Linked DNA regions of Homo sapiens. Each later gene encodes a partner of the first gene's protein in a complex. Links are inferred from orthologs where the notes say so. Each region holds a gene or a part of one and is shown in the gene's direction. Other genes may lie near its edges. The genes, in order: PDGFRB and PTPN11.

Region 1 (9,174 bases):
TACTGACCCTCAGGATAAAAGTCAGACTCCCTCGAGCCCACAAAGCCCTGATGCCTGGCCACTGACCACCTCTCCAATCTTCCATCCCACTGCCGGCTCTCTGCCTCAACCATTCTTTTCTCTTTGTTCGAACCCATCAAGATCTCTCTGGCCTCCAAGCTTTTGCAGATGCTTTTCCCCCTGCCTCGAACACTGTTCCTACTCCTGAATGTGTGTGGCCTCACAGGCCTGCTTCCTCCCCACAGAAGCCCTATTGTACCTGAACAAGAACTCCCATCCACCCAGCTCATTATTCTCTTTGTCTCTTTCATCACACTCATCACAATTTGATATTATTAATTTGTGGTTTCCTCGGTGTTTGCTTGTGAACTCTGTGAGGACAGGAGGACAGGGCACATAGTAGGTCCTCAATTAACTTCTATCGCATGGATGGATGGTTGGAGGAACAGTTATCTTAGTGATAACTGGGTGTTAGATGGAGAGGCCCCACCCTAGGCCTGCTGTGTGCCCTCAAAAAAGTTCTGGTGCTCTCCAGACCTTAGGAGCCAGTGTATTCAGTGAGGGTGAGGGCCCTGCTCTTCTGGGGATCTATGAGCCATCTGCGTGTACCAGATGGACACACTCAAGTTGCCCACGGTCCTGGGGCTGAGAGGGAGGCCAGCAAGGGGGCAAGGAGAGGCTGAATGGGCAGTGTCTTGAAGCCTTTATCTCCTGGGACCCTGGCAGACCTCGGTGGCTACAGTCTGGCTCAGTAAGACAGTCCTAAGAATCTAGGGAGGGAATGTGGCCCAAGGCCCCTGCTGGTCTTTTGCCCACTCAGAAAGCCACTACACTGAGTGTCCAGGAGGTAGGGGGACAGTTCCCACTCTGTGCCTCTCTGGCTCCCCAGCCACAGGCACAAGGATCTACGTGCTCTGCTCAGGGCATGCATGGGTGGAAGGACACTGAGCTGGGGATCAGGAGTCCTGTATTCTAGCTTCCCTCAGCCCCACCGTGAACCTCAGACAAGTCCCCTCCACTCTCTGGGCCTCAGTGTCCATGCCAGCAGAAGGGACATATCTTAGGGTCCTGACGTCTAAGATGACTGTGTGAGCGCCTGGGGTATGTGTGCTGCTTCCTCATCACCCCCCACCCCCACCCCACAACTCTGCCTGGGGAGCCTGGGAGTGGGGGCAGAGCCAGGAGCGTGGGAGAGCCAGATGTGGTGGCCGCTGCCCTGCCTGAGTGAGGGCTGAGCGGCCTCCTGGGAATTCTCCCACTCAGGCTCCCTTTCCGGTTCCCTCCCCCTGCCCCACTGAGAGCAGCAACTTCCGGCTCTGACAAGCGTGGGTGGGGGAGGGGGGTCTTAGCACGGGGGTCTGTTCAGCCTGGTTCCCTCCTCTGGGGAAGAGCATGGGCTTATGAGTCTAGACAGAAAGCCTCGGTTCCAGTCCCAGTCTGTGGCTGACACATCACAAGGCCTTGCACAAGTTCCTTTCCATCACTGGCCTCAGTCATACCGGCTGTGTAATGAGCATGTTGGTGAGCTTCCCTCCAGCCCTGATGGTGGACTTCTATGACAGCAGCTCTTGGTAACACCTGAGGATCAGTCACCTTTTTTTTTTTTTTTGAGATGGAGTTTCACTCTTGTTGCCCAGACTGGAGTGCAATGGCGCCATCTCAGCTCACCACAACGTCTGCCTCCCGGGTTCAAGCAATTCTCTGGCCTCAGCCTCCCGAGTAGCTGGGATTACAGGCATGCACCACCACACCCAGCTAATTTTGTATTTTTAGTGGAGACTGGGTTTCTCCATGTTGGCCAGGCTGGTCTCAAACTCCTGACCTCAGGTGATCCACCCACCTTGGCCTCCCAAAGTGCTGGGATTATAGACGTGAGCCACCGCGCCCAGCTGGATCAGTCACCTTTTGTGGCACTTTCTTGTTTTGCTCGAGGCTTGACAAAATGCCTGTGGGCATGGCTTATTCAGGTCTCTCCACAACCCTGTGAGGTAGGCACATGTGTCCCCATTTCACAGTTGAAGGTACTGAGGCTCAGAGAGCTCAGGTCATATCATCTCCCAGCGTCACATGGCTGGGAAGTGGTGGAGCTGGGTTGGAGCTGCCAACATCAGAGTCCAGACATTTAACTCTTGAGTGTGCCACCGTGCTGTGGGGGAAGGCAGTGTGGAACCCTAAGGCCCAGAGCCCCCCTCTCCCACTGTACCCCATCCCAGTCCACTTCAGGCAGGGCTCCCCACATTCCATGCTCTGCCCACCTACTCTCAGCCCAGGCTTCCCCAAGACAGCATTGTCCAAGGCTGGACTGGGTTCCCAGTATCTGTGTAGGTGTGAGGATGTTCATAGCTTGTCCTGTCCACAGTGGGGCTGGGGGCCATGCTGACCACCCCAGGGTGATGGTGCTGCACTGCCCATGTGCCCCGTCCATTGCCGCTGAAGGCAGAGTGCACAAGGGGAATCCAAGACCCAGAAAAGGGAGGCTCCGCCCAGGAAGACACAGTGATGGAATGCTGCTCGAATGAGGAAACTCACTATTTCAGTAATAGTGTACACTTAGTACACTTCGAGGCAATGTACTAAGTCCTTTGTACAAACCGAAGAGTCTTATGAATCAGTCTTTGACTTGTCTCCATTTTCCAGAGGAGGAAACCAAGGCCAGGAGTTTAAGTGACTTGCCTAAGCTCATGTAGCTTGAAACTGGAGCAGCTGGGATTCGAACCCAGCTCTATCTCTAGCTCTCCAACCTCCTCTGTCAATCATGACAATTTTGCCCCTTGGTGAGTGCCCTGGGTTGCTCCCTGTAGCTCTGCACCTCCCACCCATATCTCAGTTGAGAGGAGGAGTGACAGTCCTGGTGCCCACCAAGGGTTAATGGCAGTAGGGGCTAAGTAATTCCAGATGGGCCTCAGGACGGCTGGGCTGGCCGGAAACTGGAGGCCGCCAGCTTCCCAGGGGAGCCACCGCCAACTGCCCCTCCCCTTTGTGCTGCATCTCTGGCCCCAGCTGTACCCCTGCCCTAGGGCCCACCAGCCTCCTCTCCCTTGCTAGAGTCCAGCTCTAAGGGAAATTGCAGACGGACCATCCCAAGGGCCTTGTAGCACAGTGAGTCCACAACTGTTATGTACAAATAGGGAAACCGAGGCTCAGGCAGGGCAAGGGACTTATTCAAGTTCTCCTGATAAGTCTGTGGCTGGGTCTTCTGACTCCCAGACTAGCTTCTTTGGGGACTAGGGGGTTGGTGTGTCTCGTGGCCTCCCCCAGGCTGGCCTGGCTGCAGAGGGTCAGCCAAGGATTCAGAGGTGAATGGCCCAGGCAGATGCTAGGAGGGGAGTCGTAAATTTCTGACGGAATCTTTGGGCACAAGAAATCCCTGTGCAAGCCTGACCTTGTGGCCTGTGGGATCTTTTCACATTCCCCTATTTCCCTGTTGCCACAAAGACCTGGCCAGGCCCCCTCTCTCGGGGTACTCTTATGGTCCCCAACCCGTGGCTGGGAACCAGTCTGAGAACACTTCTCCTTCTATGTGGTCCAGCCCAGATGCTCTGCTGGGCAATCCCGATTGGGACTAGACCAAGAAATGCAAGATAGTTGACTGTGGTGGGCATGGAATCCCAGCTCACGCAAATCCTCTGCTCTGTGAACAGGGGTCTGGGGGAAGCTGAGGAGGAAAGACTTAGCGGCGCAGAGGGAAGGAGGGCAGAGCCAGCCTCTACCTGTGTCACCTGGGACAGCTTTCTTCACCCTCTGGAATTCAGTTGCCCTGTGGGTGCAGTAGTGGGAGCAGGGGTGGTAAGCCCACTCTATATGCCCTTCTAAAATAATGCCCTTTGCCATCTGAGGGCTAGGAGTCTGTAACTGGAGATGTCTTCTGATCTGAGAAGCTGAGGGTGGAAGAAGAGACCCAGCTGGGGGAACTGGAGGAGTCTTGGCAGACCCTGGTAGGAAAGGAGAGCCAGAGAATGGAAATGGAACAAAACGGATACTTGAAAGTATCTTGTTGAGGCTGGGTGCGGTGGCTCAAGCCTGTAATCCCAGCACTTTGGGAGGCTGAGGTGGGTGGATCATGAAGTCAGGGGTTTGAGACCAGCCTGGCCAACATAGTGAAACCCGGTCTCTACAAAAAATACAAAAATAGCCAGGTGTGGTGGTGTGCGCCTGTAATCCCAGCTACTTGGGAGTCTGAGGCAGGAGAGTCACTTGAACCTGGGAGGCGGAGGTTGCAGTGAGCCTAGACTGCGCCATTGCACTCCAGCCTGGGAGACAGAGCAAGACTCCATCTCAAAAAAAAAAAAAAAAAAAAAAAGAAAGTATCTTGTTGAGTGACTGAATGAAAGAGCCACAGGGGGAACCTAGGAAGAAAGCAGGGCAGGGGGTTCATCTACACTGGAATAGGGGTCTCGGGTGGGGGTCAGATGACTTGTGTCTCTTCCATCATGTGTCTCATGAGACCTAGTTCTGCCCCAGCTCTGCCATTGCTGCGTAAGCTTGGGAAGCTTATTTTGCTCCTCTGGGCCTCAGTGTCCCCATCTATAAAATGGGGCAAATAATCCTCTCCTTGCACCCCAGGGGCTTTGAGACGTGAAAAGGAATGTATCTGTCAATATCCAGAGATATCCAATCTGTGCTGGATGACCTTGACCAAATCACATTCCCTCTCTGTGCCAATTCACCCCTGGGCCTTGGTTTGTCCTTCTGAAAAACGGCTGATCATCTTGGAGGATCTTTCCATCTCCTCCATGTCACCTCTTCTCAGCAGTGCTCTCTGATTCTCTCAGGCTTCCGTTAGGGGTCCTTCTAAATGCACTCTCAGCCTCCTGTCTGCCGACCGGGCACCTGCTTGCCCAATGAATATCTTGCTCACTAGCCTGGTGCTTCTGAGGTCAGGACCACGTCTTGCTACTGTCCCCTGCACCCAGTACAGTGTTAGAATGTAGTAAATGCTCAGTATGCTTGTTCAATGAATGAAGGTTGACTGAATCAACCACAGAGATGATCAGAGTCTCCTTTACAGATGGGGAAACTGAGGCACTGAGAAATGATCTCCCTGGGTGCCATGGCAAGGGGAGGCCGCCACCCGACATGGGCATCGGGAAAGTGGGGCCGAGGCCACTCTTTGACAAAAGTGACTCAGCAGCTGGCGGCTGGCGTGGGCTGTGGAATTTCTAAGCATCCCCTCACATCCTGAGCGAACGGGCGATGGGAGGGAGTAAGCAGAGTGAAAAGAAGAAAAACAAGAAACTTGGGGGAAAAGAAAGAGAGAGGGGGAAAAAAACTGAAATTGAAAACAGACGCACGCGTCCACCCTCCCTGCCCCGCCGCCCCCCCTTCTCCCAGCTGGGCCAATCAGAAGCCACCCTGCAGCCTTTCCCCCAAAGTGGCGGGGGAAGTGGGGGGGCATGGAAGCCCATAGTGGTGTGAGCTCCTGAGGCTGCCAGCAGCCAGCAGTGACTGCCCGCCCTATCTGGGACCCAGGATCGCTCTGTGAGCAACTTGGAGCCAGAGAGGAGATCAACAAGGAGGAGGAGAGAGCCGGCCCCTCAGCCCTGCTGCCCAGCAGCAGCCTGTGCTCGCCCTGCCCAACGCAGACAGCCAGACCCAGGGCGGCCCCTCTGGCGGCTCTGCTCCTCCCGAAGGATGCTTGGGGAGTGAGGCGAAGCTGGGCCGCTCCTCTCCCCTACAGCAGCCCCCTTCCTCCATCCCTCTGTTCTCCTGAGCCTTCAGGAGCCTGCACCAGTCCTGCCTGTCCTTCTACTCAGCTGTTACCCACTCTGGGACCAGCAGTCTTTCTGATAACTGGGAGAGGGCAGTAAGGAGGACTTCCTGGAGGGGGTGACTGTCCAGAGCCTGGAACTGTGCCCACACCAGAAGCCATCAGCAGCAAGGTAAGTGCTGGAAAAAGTGGGAACCCCAGCCCCATGCCCTGTCCCTTTGCCCTAACCTGCATCTCTTCGAGTAGGTAAAAAAAAAAAAAAAAAAAAAAAGGGAAGATATTTTTAACAAAACAAGATGAGAGGAGGCTGGGAGACTGTGGGTGATGTCAGGGATGGAGGAGCCAGTTTTCTCCTTTCCCCTGCTCTGGGGTGAGTGGCCTCCACCTCATCATCCCTGCTGCTCCTGCCTTCATCAAACAATCCTCAGGGGTTTCTGGGTGCTGACTGGGGGCCTCCAAAGCACAGCACAGTCAATGGGGAGTGGGGAGAGCTGGGAAGAGCGGGAGAGGGGAATTGGGAGAAGGTAGGCAGGGTACACAGAAAGCAGGGGACTGGGGACCTCAGGACCATAGCCGCTGTTCCTTGGCCCAAGCCTTGTTTCTAAGAATCAGTCTGGCTTTAGGCCAGTCAGCCGCCAGGCAACCTCTGGGGATTTAAATGGATTTGCAAATTTTCTAGATTCTTAAGATATCCTTCTAAACCCCCAGCAGCTAGAAAAGTTTGAGGGCTAGGAAAGTTCGAGGGTGATGGGCGGCCATGGCAACCCCCTAGCGGTCATGCTGCTGGGTCTGGGGGCTGGGACCTGGCTGTCAGATCTGGGGGCTCCTCTGTGAAGAAGGGGTCAGCCACTGGGCCATTTCCTTTGGTCCCAGGCAGCTGCTCAGGCCTCCTCGTTGTCTCCCTCCTTCTGGACTCTACCCCTTCTCCATGCCATTCTAAAGCATAAATCCAATCACACCACCTCCCTGCCCAGGATCCGCCTATGGCTCCCCAGTGCCTGGAGAAAGTCCCAGCTCCTAACAGAGGCTGCCACTGCTTGACACTTACTGCACGCCGCAACTGTGCTGAGTGCTTTATGAGACTGATCTCATGTAATGCTCACCAGCAACCCCAGAGGCAGTGACTGTTTTTACCTCCGTTTTATACATGAGGAACTTGAGGCTCACGCAGCCACATAACTGTAGCCACACAGCTAGTAAGTGGCACAGCCTGGAGAGGTTGGAATCTCCCCGTGCCCCATTACTCCAAACTTGGGCCTTTTGTTCCCGCCAGTCAGATCCCAGAATTCCCAGAAGGAATGCGCACCATCCTGCTTGTGGGCATTTGCCCTCCCTCTTCCCCCTTTCTGGAATGCCCTTCCTCATCACTTTTCTTTCAGGGATATTCCATACACCACCTCTTCCAGGCAGCCTTCCTAGGTTCTTCCTGTCTTCCAAGTGCTAGCCATGCACTTTGTGCTGAAGCCATGTTACTTGGCCCTCCCCTGTTGGTGATCTGTTTATGTTCTGTTTGTTCATCAGAGATTGTTCAGGCCCCAGCAGTCAGAACTGAGGCCGCACTTTCTGCTGGGGAAAGGTTTAAGGTTTCCCCATCCTGTGCTCTTCCCCCAGTGCCCAGCCCTGGATAGGCAGTGCGGCTGAAAAAATGTCCTGGTGAAAGGGAGGAGGAGCTCACTGAAGACCTTCTGCTCCCAAGTGTGAGACTAGAACCCAGGCCTCCAGCCTTCTCACAGGTGCCCTTCCAGGACATCGTGTGGCTACTCCAGGCAGCATTCCTCCATTGCAAGCAGGGAGGAGTATCTCTGCTTCCCTCTGTGACCTCCCAATTGCACAGAGGCCTCTAGTGACAAGTTCTGAAGTCATGCAGTCCTCCCCTGTCTCCAAGCAGGAGACCCTGAATCCACAGCCTTCAGGGACATACAGTCCCTGAACACCTACCTCATGCAGGCATAGAGCCTGGTACTTCACACACCTTGGAGTCCTCATGGCAAGTTTTTGAAATCAGTGTTATTACCTACTTTTTGTAGATGAGGAAGCTGAGATCTGGAGAGGCTAAGTGACTTTCCCAGGGCCATACGGTGAGTTAAGGTGGTGTTTAGGCTGAAGTCTGCCTGACTCTAAAGGCTTACCTCGTGCTCCCCGGGAAGCTCCCAGTCAGAGGGAAGAATCTCCATCCTCCTGCAGAGCCTGCTCCTGGCTTCAGCACCTTCCCCAGCAGAAAGTGCAGCCTCAGGTCTGACTGCTCCAAGGTCTGCCCGGGCCCTGGCTTGGTCTTGAGAGAGGAAAGAGACCATCTGGTCAGCACCCTCCTCCCAGACAGCAGTTATCAGCAGCCCCCCTCCTCTGCGGGAAGAAGAGCTGGGACTTATAATTGCCCACACATGTGGGGCAGGCAGTGGAAAGCACCGTGGATCCAGAGTCAGGAGACCCAGTGCTTGCCCTGGCTTGATTTAAATCCACCGTGTGGCCAACCTCAGACCCCCCACATCCCATCTCTGGGCTCCTTCCGCAGCTGGGAGGCAGTGAGCGCTGTGGGTAACCAGCACCAGGCTTGGGCATCAGATGACTATGCATTGACCCCGAGTCAGTTTCTGGCTGACTGTGTGACCCCGGGGCAGCACCTTGCCTCTCTGGGCCTCAATCTCCTTCTCTGTGAGCAGCAGGACCGTGTGTGGGCTCCATGAGACAACAGCATTGGCAAGGTGCTTACCACAGTTCCTGCACTTCACAGCTGGACCTCTGGCCACTGGCTGAGAGAACCACTGCTCTCCTGGCCTCCTGCATTGGAACACTTGGCTGTGAAATTAATCTGCAACCTGCAAAAGGCTCTGCCCACAGAAGGGACCTGGACACCATGTATGTTCCAAAGATCCGTGTCCATCCTCCAGGCACAGGCCACAGTCTGACTCTGAGACCAGCTGCCTTCTAGGCTAAAGGAGGGTGCTCTGGGCATTGGCTCAGAACAGGCTGCTGCTGAATGCAGTGGGAAGGGAGAAAGGGATGAAAAGGTCTTCTGAAATGCCCACCCATTTCTTGCATTTGATTCAGAACCCAGTGGGCAGTGGGTTCTTGGAATGGGAATCTTTTTGGTGCCCCCTGTCTTCTGACCCAGAGCGTTAGGAGGGAAGGGAAGGGGTGTTGGGCCCCTTCCCAGGGTCAGGGCTTGTAGCACCTCAGCTGGGAAGCAGTGTGAGCATGATGATATAACAGGAACCAACTCGTTCTTAGCACTTTCTGTGTCTACTTCAATTGTGCTTTACATCTGTTACCTCAAAGTTGCTGCTGTATTCCTCAGCACTTGGAACATGCTGGGCATTCAGGACATTCTTAGTAAATATTTACTGGATTAATTTAACCATCGAGGCTGGGCACGGTGGCTCACACATGTAATCCCAGCACTTTGGGAGGCCGAGGCGGGTGGATCACCCGAGGTCTGGAGTTTGAGACCAGCCTGGCCAACATGGTGA
Region 2 (9,071 bases), on another chromosome or scaffold:
GTGAGCCACCATGCCTGGCCATCACTTTTTTTTTTTTCTTAATTGCTGCATAGTGGCCGGGCACAGTGGCTCACGCCTGTAATCCCAGCACTTTGGGAGGCCAAGGCAGGCGGCGGATCATGAGGTCAGGAGACCAATACCATCCTGGCTAACATGGTGAAACCCCGTCTCTACTAAAAATACAAAAAAATTTAGCTGGGCGTCGTGGCGGGCGCCTGTAGTCCCAGCTACTTGGGAGGTTGAGGCAGGAGAATGGTGTGAACCCGGGACGTGGAGCTTGCAGTGAGCCAAGATTGCACCACTGCACTCCAGCCTGGGTGATGGAGTGAGACTCTGTCTCAAAAACAAACAAACAAACAAAAAAATTGCTGCATAGTATTCCATTGTATGAGTAGTAACACAACAATTTTTATAATGCATAGTATTCCATTGTATGAATAGTAATGTAGCACTATTTGTTTATACATTTTTATGATTAAAAAACAAAATGTTTTTCTATTATGAATAAAGTGGCAATGAATATTTTTGTACAAGTGTTTTGGTAGCTATACAGTTATTGTCACTTAATATATGCAATTCGATAGGCCAGTCATTCAAAATAGAAGATATACAAGGTAGGCCGGGCGTGGTGGCTCACGCCTGTAATCTCAGCACTTTGGGAGGCCGAGGTGGGTGGATCACCTGTGGTTAGGAGTTTCAGACCAGCCTGACCAACATGGAGAAACCTCATCTCTACTAAAAATACAAAAGTAGCTGAGCGTGGTGGCGCATTCCTGTAATCCCAGCTTCTTGGGAGGCTGAGGTAGGAGAATCACTTGAACCTGGATTTATAATGTATGTAAATCCACCGCGAAGGTTGCGGTGAACCGAGATCACGTCATTGCACTCCAGCCTGGGCAATAAGAGCGAAACTCCATCTCAAAAAAAAAAAAAAAAGATATGCAAGGTAAAGATACTAATAAAGACCTTTGTGTTGAGTTGGTTGACATGTGGTTATTTCACCCATCGTATTTCTTATAGGGAATAGGTAAATTCGTTCCTTGGGTTTCTTTCAACACTTAGGTAAAATCCGACGTGGAAGATGAGATCTGATTTTACTGGTGTAACTCTTTATTTGTCCCCTTGCCTCCCTTTCCAATGGACTATTTTAGAAGAAATGGAGCTGTCACCCACATCAAGATTCAGAACACTGGTGATTACTATGACCTGTATGGAGGGGAGAAATTTGCCACTTTGGCTGAGTTGGTCCAGTATTACATGGAACATCACGGGCAATTAAAAGAGAAGAATGGAGATGTCATTGAGCTTAAATATCCTCTGAACTGTGCAGATCCTACCTCTGAAAGGTCAGTAACATTTTAGTGACCACAAAGTCTGCTGCTCCCTTGTGCCCTGAGTGTCAGAAATGCATGACGGTCTGTGTATGACTCTCTGACTCCAAAGGCTTGTGACTGTTTTTTGAGCTGTAATCTTTAAAGAATTACTAAAGTGAGACTAATAGCATCAAATTATTTTCAGAGTACCTTTTTCCTGCAAAAGTTTTAATCAGTGTTACTTACACTCATCCTATAGGGGTTGCATACCATTCCTGCATATACTTGGTACGTGTATTAGTTTTAAGACTTATTGAACTTCAGCAGATAATCTTTGAGAGTTATTAGAGGAAAACAAATGATAATGGAGACACCAAAATAGCAGCAGTTTTCTATGGTGGCTCTCGACCAGTTATTCAGCAATGTCACCAACAGATGTCAGTTTAAGCTCAGAAGTGGAAAAGCAGAGAGCTCAGAGGGTCAGCTTTTTCATCAGTTCTTTTAATGTTATCACCACAATTATGTGAGAATGACCTTGCTTAGAGAAAATTATGTTATTTTCGAGATCTTTCCCCCTGTGTTGGAACTAGGCTGATGAAAGCATGGGCTTGACTTATTTATTGATTGTATTCGTTTTGTACATTCCCAATCTCCTCTCTGACTTGGTGCAAATTCAGGATCTCTTAGTTAGTTTGTATATTTTGTGTCTTCAGGTATGATTTTTTCAGCTTATACCTTTATGTCAGTGCTATTATGTGCTGATAATTTGTTTCTCTAGCTACCACCGTAGCTTCAGGCAAAAGGCTGTCAGCCAACTCTGTACAGTTTATTTCTAAATTTTACTGTTTTCAGTTGAGTATGGATGAAGAATAACTCAAAGTTTATTCTTTTGATGATGAGCCCTTAACACCACCTGCCATGATAGTACTTGCTTTCTGACCAAGATCCTGAGGGAAAAAGCCACTTTATTATTAGAACTATGTTAAGATGCTTCCCAAAAAACATGGAGCAGTATTGTCTCAAAGTCTGTCCTTGGATGGCTTTGGATGCCTACATCAGGACTGTCTGATGTGCTGGTTAAAATGCAGATTCCTGGGCCTCATTCAGACTTACATGTATTGATATTGCTGGTTGTGGAGCCTGGGAATTCATATTTTTAGCAAAATCCCTCATTTTTACTCCAAGTCTTATGTGCATTATACAGTTTGAGATGATCACCCAGGATATAGTCCAAAGACACTGGAGGCTGTTGAAGTATAGGTTGTATATATGGAAAAGGTTGGAATGTTTGAATTAATTTATAATGAAGATCCTTTTTAATTGAGTGTTCACATGCCAAGGCAAGGACAAACATTCAAAATGATTTTCTGTCTCTGTTACAACTTTTTCTTTCTTTTTTTTAATTTATTTATTTGAGATGGAGTCTCACTCTGTCACCCAGGCTGGAGTCAAGTGACGCGATCTCGGCTCACTACAACCTCCGCCTCCCAGATTCAAGTAATTCTCTTGCCTCAGCCTCCCGAGTAGCTGGGACTACAGGCATGTGCCACCATGCCCAGTTAATTTTTGTATTTTTAGTAGAGACAGGGTTTTGTCATGTTTGCCAGGCTGGTCTCAAACTCCTGAACTCAGGTGATCCGCCCACCTTGACCTCTCAAAGTGCTGGGATTATAGGCGTGAGCCACCGTGCCTGTCTCTATTACAACTTTTTATTACAACTTCTTTATTTTGACTTTATTTTTACAAATTATTTATTTATTTTTTTTGAGATGGAGTTTCGCTCGTCACCCAGGCTGGAGTGCAATGGTGCGATCTCAGCTCACTGCAACCTCCGCCTCCCAGGTTCAAGTGATTCTCCTGCCTCAGCCTCCTGAGTAGCTGGGATTACAGGCACTTGCCACCACACCCGGCCAATTTTGTATTTTTAGCAGAGACAGGGTTTCACCATGTTGGTCAGGCTGGTCTCGAATTCTTGACCTCAGGTGATCCACCTGCCTCGGCCTCCCAAAGTGTTGGGATTACAGGCATGAGCCACCACGTCCGGCCGACTTTTATTTTTTTTTCTTGAGACAGGGTCTTGCTCTGTCACCCAAGCTGGAGTGCGGTGGCATGATCATAGCGCACTGCAGCCTCGACCTCCTGGACTCAAGTGATCCTCCTGCCTCGGCCTTGTGTATAGCTGGGATTACAGGCAGTTGCCACCATGCCAGGCTAATTTTTAATTGTTTTGTGAAGATGGGGATTTCACTGTGTTGCCCAGACTGGTCTTGAACTCCTGGCCTCAAGTGATCTTCCTGCCTTGGCCTTCCAAAGTGTTGGGATTACAGGCATAAGCCACTATGCATGGCCTGTAACTTCTTTAAATGGCTATAATTAAACAGTTGGTCCTTTTAAGATTGGGCAATGGACGAATGGCAAATTGCATTTTTAAAAGAGGAGGGATTTAAAAAAAAACAGGAAAGATTGGGGCATTTGTCTCTAAAGGACTGTGGACTCATTTAAGAAGTTTAGTGGTCATTCTTACCATCTTTGTGGTTTTTCCTGCCTGCATGGGATGCAGATTTTCTGTCTCAGGTGGGATTGATCAATCCCTTGGAGGAATGTGTCTACTTTTTAATTGTGTTTAGGAGAGCTGACTGTATACAGTAGTTTTGTGAAAGAACAACATGAACCCATAGTAGAGCTAAATTCTTTTTTATTTTTTAAAAACTTTAGGTGGTTTCATGGACATCTCTCTGGGAAAGAAGCAGAGAAATTATTAACTGAAAAAGGAAAACATGGTAGTTTTCTTGTACGAGAGAGCCAGAGCCACCCTGGAGATTTTGTTCTTTCTGTGCGCACTGGTGATGACAAAGGGGAGAGCAATGACGGCAAGTCTAAAGTGACCCATGTTATGATTCGCTGTCAGGTAAATCTCCAGTTGAAAAATGGGTCTGGCAAGATGTTACCTTTGGGTGATTTTTCTGCTGACAGAAGACAGACACCATTACATTCAAAGTCAGATTGTCTTTTATTTATTTATTTATTTATTTATTTATTTGAGACAGGGTCTTGCTCTATCACCTACAGATGGGGTTTCACCACGTTGGGTCTGGTGACCCAAATCTTTGGGTGATTTTTCTGCTGGAAGAGGACAAACACCATTACATTCAAAGTCAGATTTTCTGTTTTTTTTTTTTTTTTGTTTTTGTTTTTTTAATATTCATTTGTTTATTCATTTGAGACTGGGTCTTGCTCTGTCACGCAGGCTGGAGTGCAACCTCCCTGGGCTCAGTTGATCTTCCCTCAGCCTCTTGAGTAGCTGGGACTACAGGTGTGTGCCACCATGCCCAGCTAGTGTTTGTATTTTTTGTGGAGATGGTGTTTTGCCGCATTGCCCAGTGTGGTCTTGAACTAGTGCTCAAGAGGCCTGCCTCCTTCAACCTCTCAAAGTGTTAGGATTACAGATGTGAACTACTGTGCCTGATCCAAAGTCAGATTTTCTTTGCTTACTTAGTCAAGTTCGTCTATGCTTTTATTATACTTAATATATTAGTATAGTTACTGTATTAGTATATTAGCATATTTAATATATTATTATACTTATCATACTTGAGTATATTGAGTATATTTACACTTTTAGTATATTTGTATACACACACCACATTTTTATTATTTATCTTTTTTTTGAGACAGAGTCTCCCTCTGTCTCCCAGGCTGAAGCACAGTTGGCTCACTGCAACCTCTGCCTCTTGGGCTCAAGTGATTCTCGTGCCTCACCCTCCTGAGTAGCAGGGATTACAGGTGTCCACCACCAAGCCTGGCTAATTTTTGTATTTTTAGTGGATATGGGGTTTTACCATGTTGGCCAGGCTGGTCTCGAACTCCTGACCTCAAATGATCTGCCCGCCTTGGCCTCCCAAAGTGCTGGAATTACTGGCGTGAGCCACTGCACCCAGCCTATTATCTGTCTTTTGATGGACATTTAAGTTGTCTCTATATACTAGCTATTGTGAATAATGCTGCAGTGAACATGAGAGTGCTTGAAAACACTAATGTAACATAAAGGTAACAAATAATAAATGTCATGTGTTTATCTTGAAAGGAACTGAAATACGACGTTGGTGGAGGAGAACGGTTTGATTCTTTGACAGATCTTGTGGAACATTATAAGAAGAATCCTATGGTGGAAACATTGGGTACAGTACTACAACTCAAGCAGGTGAGCAGATTGGAAAGCTCAAGCTTTCTCCTTAAAAACTTAAAACAAATCCTAATAGAGAATTTTGCAAACATACAGAGGTAGACAGAATAGTATCATCAGCCTCCATGTACCCATTGCAGCTTCAACTATCAAATCTTTTTTTTTTTTTTTTTTTTTGAGACAGTCTTACTCTGTCACCCAGTCTGGAGTACAGTGTTGCAATCTTGGCTCACTACAACCTCTGCTTCCTGGGTTCAAGCGATTCTCCTGCCTCAGCCTCCTGAGTAGCTGGGACTACAGGTGCCCACCACCATGCCCGGCTAGTTTTTGTGTTTTTAATAGAGATGGGGTTTCACCATGTTGGCCTGGCTGGTCTTGAATTCCCGACCTCAGGTTTTCTGCCCGCCTTGGCCTCCCGAAGTTTTGGGATTACAGGCGTGAGCTACCACGCCCGGCCCTAAATCTTTTCTTATTATGATTCCACTCACTGACTGCCGCTATAGTACTTGGAAACATATTCCAGATTTATATTATTCCCATATTTATCTGTAAAAGGCATTACAGAGGTTCTTTTTTTTTTTTTTTTTTTTTGAGATGGAGTTTTGCTCTGTCGCCCAGGCTGGAGTGCAGTGGCGTGTTCTTGGCTCACTGCAACCTCTGCGTCCCGGGTTCAAGAGCTTCTCCTGCCTCAGCCTCCTGAGTAGCTGGGATTATAGGTGGTGCCACTACACCCAGCTAATTTTTGTATTTTTAGTAGAGATGGGGTTTCACCATGTTAGCCAGGCTGGTCTTGAACTCCTGACCTCAAGTGATCTGCCTGCCTCAGCCTCTCAAAGTGCTGGGATTATAGGCATGAGCCACTGCATCTGGCCTAAGGCTGTACAGAGTTTTAAAGCAAGTTTTCATTATAGATCCACTTCTGGTTACCTTTAGGTAACCTCACTTATTCACTTTGGCATTGTTGCTATTTCAAATTTCACCTTTATGATAGTGGAAAATGATATAATCTCTCTAAATAATGTGGTCTATTCATAAAGAAAAATAGGCTTGAATTTATATCAGCAGAGTAAAGTGTATGTGAAGACTGAAGAAAGATACATTTTCTGGCTGAACAGAAAACACGGTGAAACGATTTGAAAACTTTTATTGTGAATTACAGGGTCCTATGAACCCTCTGTCCGTGCCTTTATGAATATCAACATAGACATGTTTTTTTTTTTTTTTTTGCATTAACACCGTTTTCTGTAATATTTTCTTTATTTTACATCAACTGCTGTACTCGATCAGCCCCTTAACACGACTCGTATAAATGCTGCTGAAATAGAAAGCAGAGTTCGAGAACTAAGCAAATTAGCTGAGACCACAGATAAAGTCAAACAAGGCTTTTGGGAAGAATTTGAGGTAAGTTATTAAAAAACTGTTTTTACGTGAGTTGTTATATCCTATTTTTAGTGGAGGAGAAGTTGCTCTTGTGTTTGGAATTGGACCTGAGAGACTTGAAACTGACGTCCTTTTTTAATTCGGCCATTGATTGACACGGAGCAAGTTGCTGAGAGGGCTTCTTCGAAACAGAAGAGCATTGTGTTCTGAGGGAAGGGAGTTGGCAGTGAGTAGTCAATGGATGTGCTAGCCGCTCCATTTGGCTCTTTTGGTTTGGACTGGTGGCAAAATCTCAGAGAAACAAAAGGATCTAATTTCTTCGAAAGATTTCCAGCATGCACTGGGGTCTTTAGAAACAATCTATAGCCTTAGTGCAGCAAATGAGTATGAGTAAAAGAGAAACACCTTGTGGTGGCTTTTTTTTTTTTTTTTTTGAGACAGGGTCTCGCTCTGTCGCCGAAGCTGGAGTGTAGTGGCGTGATCTCGGTTTACTGCAGCCCCGTCCTCCCTGGGCTCAAGTGATCTTCCCATCTCAGCCTACTGAGTAGCTGGGACTACAGGCACATGCCCCTATGCCTGGCTAATTTTTGTATTTTTGGTAGAGATGAGGTTTTGCAGTGTTGCCCAGGCTGGTCTTGAACTCTTGGGCTCAAGTGATCCTCCTACTTAAGCTTCCCGAGTAGCTGGGACTACAGGCACACGATACCATGCCCATCTAATTTTTGTATTTTTTTGTAGAGATGGGGTTTTGCAGTGTTGCCCAGGCTGGTCTTGAACTCTTGGGCTCAAGTGATCCTCCAGCTTTGACGTGCCAAATGTGGTGGCTTTAATTTCAGAGTTCAAATTGATAACTCTGGTAAGTTAAGTGAACTGATTTCTTTTTTTTTTAAATTATTTTTGTTGATTATACTTTAAGTTCTGGGATATATGTGCAGAACGTGCAGGTTTGTACATAGGTATACATGTGCCATCATGGTTTGCTGCACACATTAACCCATCATTTAGGTTTTAAGTCCTGCATGCATTAGGTGTTTGTCCTAATGCTCTCCCTCCCCTTTAATGCATCAGTGAAAAAGTGATGATAGGCTGGGCGTGGTGGCTCACTCCTGTAATCTCAGCACTTTGAGAGGGTGAGGCAGGTGGACCACTTGAATCCAGGAGTTTGCCCCCATCCCCAGACAGTGTGTGTGATGTTCCCCTCCCTGTGTCCATGTGTTCTCATTGTTTGGTTTTCTGTTCCTGTGTTAGTTTGCTGAGAATGATGGTTTCCAGCTTCATCCATGACCCTGCAAAGGACATGAACTCATTCTTTTTTTATGGCTGCATAGTATTCCATGGTGTGTATGTGCCACATTTTCTTTATCCGGTCTATCATTGATGGGCATTTGGGTTGGTTCCAAGTCTTTGCTATTGTAAATAGTGCTGCAATAAACATATGTGTGCATATGTCTTTATAGTAGAATGTTTTATAATCCTTTGGGTATATACCCAGTAATGGGATTGCTGGGTCAAATGGTATTTCTGGTTCTAGATCCTTGAGGAGTCACCACACTGTCTTCCACAATGGTTCAACTAATTTACACTCCCACCAACAGTGTAAAAGCATTCCTATTTCTCCACATCTTCTCCAGCATCTGTTGTTTCCTGACTTTAAGTGAACTGATCTCTTTCCTGAAACTAACTTGGGTTGGAGAATGTCCCTGATGGGAATGTGCTGTGTTCCCATTGCACTCTTCTATATCACTTACCCATTGACAATGTGATCTCTTTCATTTTCTCCTCATCCATTTGACAGAAAACTTCAAAAACAAGGATTCTGGCATATTTACCTTTGCAGTTGTCCCCAGCATGTAGCACGGTGCCTAGTACACAGAAGAAACTCCATAAATGTTTGTTGAATGAGATTTACATTTAACTCATGTTTACATCATTTTATTTTCCTGTTCTGTTTTATGGGAATGATTATTCTATGCTTTTTGAGGACTACAATTTATAAATATTTGTGGATTGAATGAATAAGTGAATACTGGGCAAATAAAGTCCTTTTAGCCAGAGTATGTCTGAACAACTTGCTGAGATAGATATGATTTCCCATTTTCCAGCTGAGGGGCCTAAGGGAGGTTAAGTAAATTATTCAATCTTCATACCACAGTTTTTGTTTTGTTTTGTTTTGTTTTTTTTCCTCCTGAGACAGA

What was found.
Region 2: the proteins of PDGFRB (region 1) and PTPN11 are in contact, whole or in part, in a crystal structure (PDB 1AYA), measured with the Mus musculus proteins. The link is inferred for Homo sapiens from one-to-one orthologs. Residues at the interface, in NP_032835.2 of Mus musculus: Ser1005, Val1006, Leu1007, Tyr1008, Thr1009, Ala1010, Val1011, Gln1012, Pro1013; in NP_001103462.1 of Mus musculus: Gly13, Val14, Glu17, Arg32, Pro33, Ser34, Lys35, Ser36, Thr42, Thr52, His53, Ile54, Lys55, Leu65, Gly68, Gln87, Leu88, Lys89, Glu90, Lys91, Gly93, Ile96.

The regions. Positions count from the first base shown.
Region 1 is NC_000005.10:150,152,102-150,161,275, reverse strand, and holds the start of PDGFRB (platelet-derived growth factor receptor beta isoform 1 precursor), read left to right. Parts: upstream 1-5,430; 5' UTR 5,431-5,879; intron 5,880-7,318; exon of another isoform or gene 7,319-8,937; intron 8,938-9,174. UniProt on the Homo sapiens protein: Tyrosine-protein kinase that acts as a cell-surface receptor for homodimeric PDGFB and PDGFD and for heterodimers formed by PDGFA and PDGFB, and plays an essential role in the regulation of embryonic development, cell proliferation, survival, differentiation, chemotaxis and migration.
Region 2 is NC_000012.12:112,449,167-112,458,237, forward strand, and holds part of PTPN11 (tyrosine-protein phosphatase non-receptor type 11), read left to right. Parts: intron 1-1,151; coding exon 1,152-1,346; intron 1,347-4,028; coding exon 4,029-4,221; intron 4,222-5,397; coding exon 5,398-5,514; intron 5,515-6,783; coding exon 6,784-6,897; intron 6,898-8,583; exon of another isoform or gene 8,584-8,738; intron 8,739-9,071. UniProt on the Homo sapiens protein: Acts downstream of various receptor and cytoplasmic protein tyrosine kinases to participate in the signal transduction from the cell surface to the nucleus. Positively regulates MAPK signal transduction pathway. Dephosphorylates GAB1, ARHGAP35 and EGFR.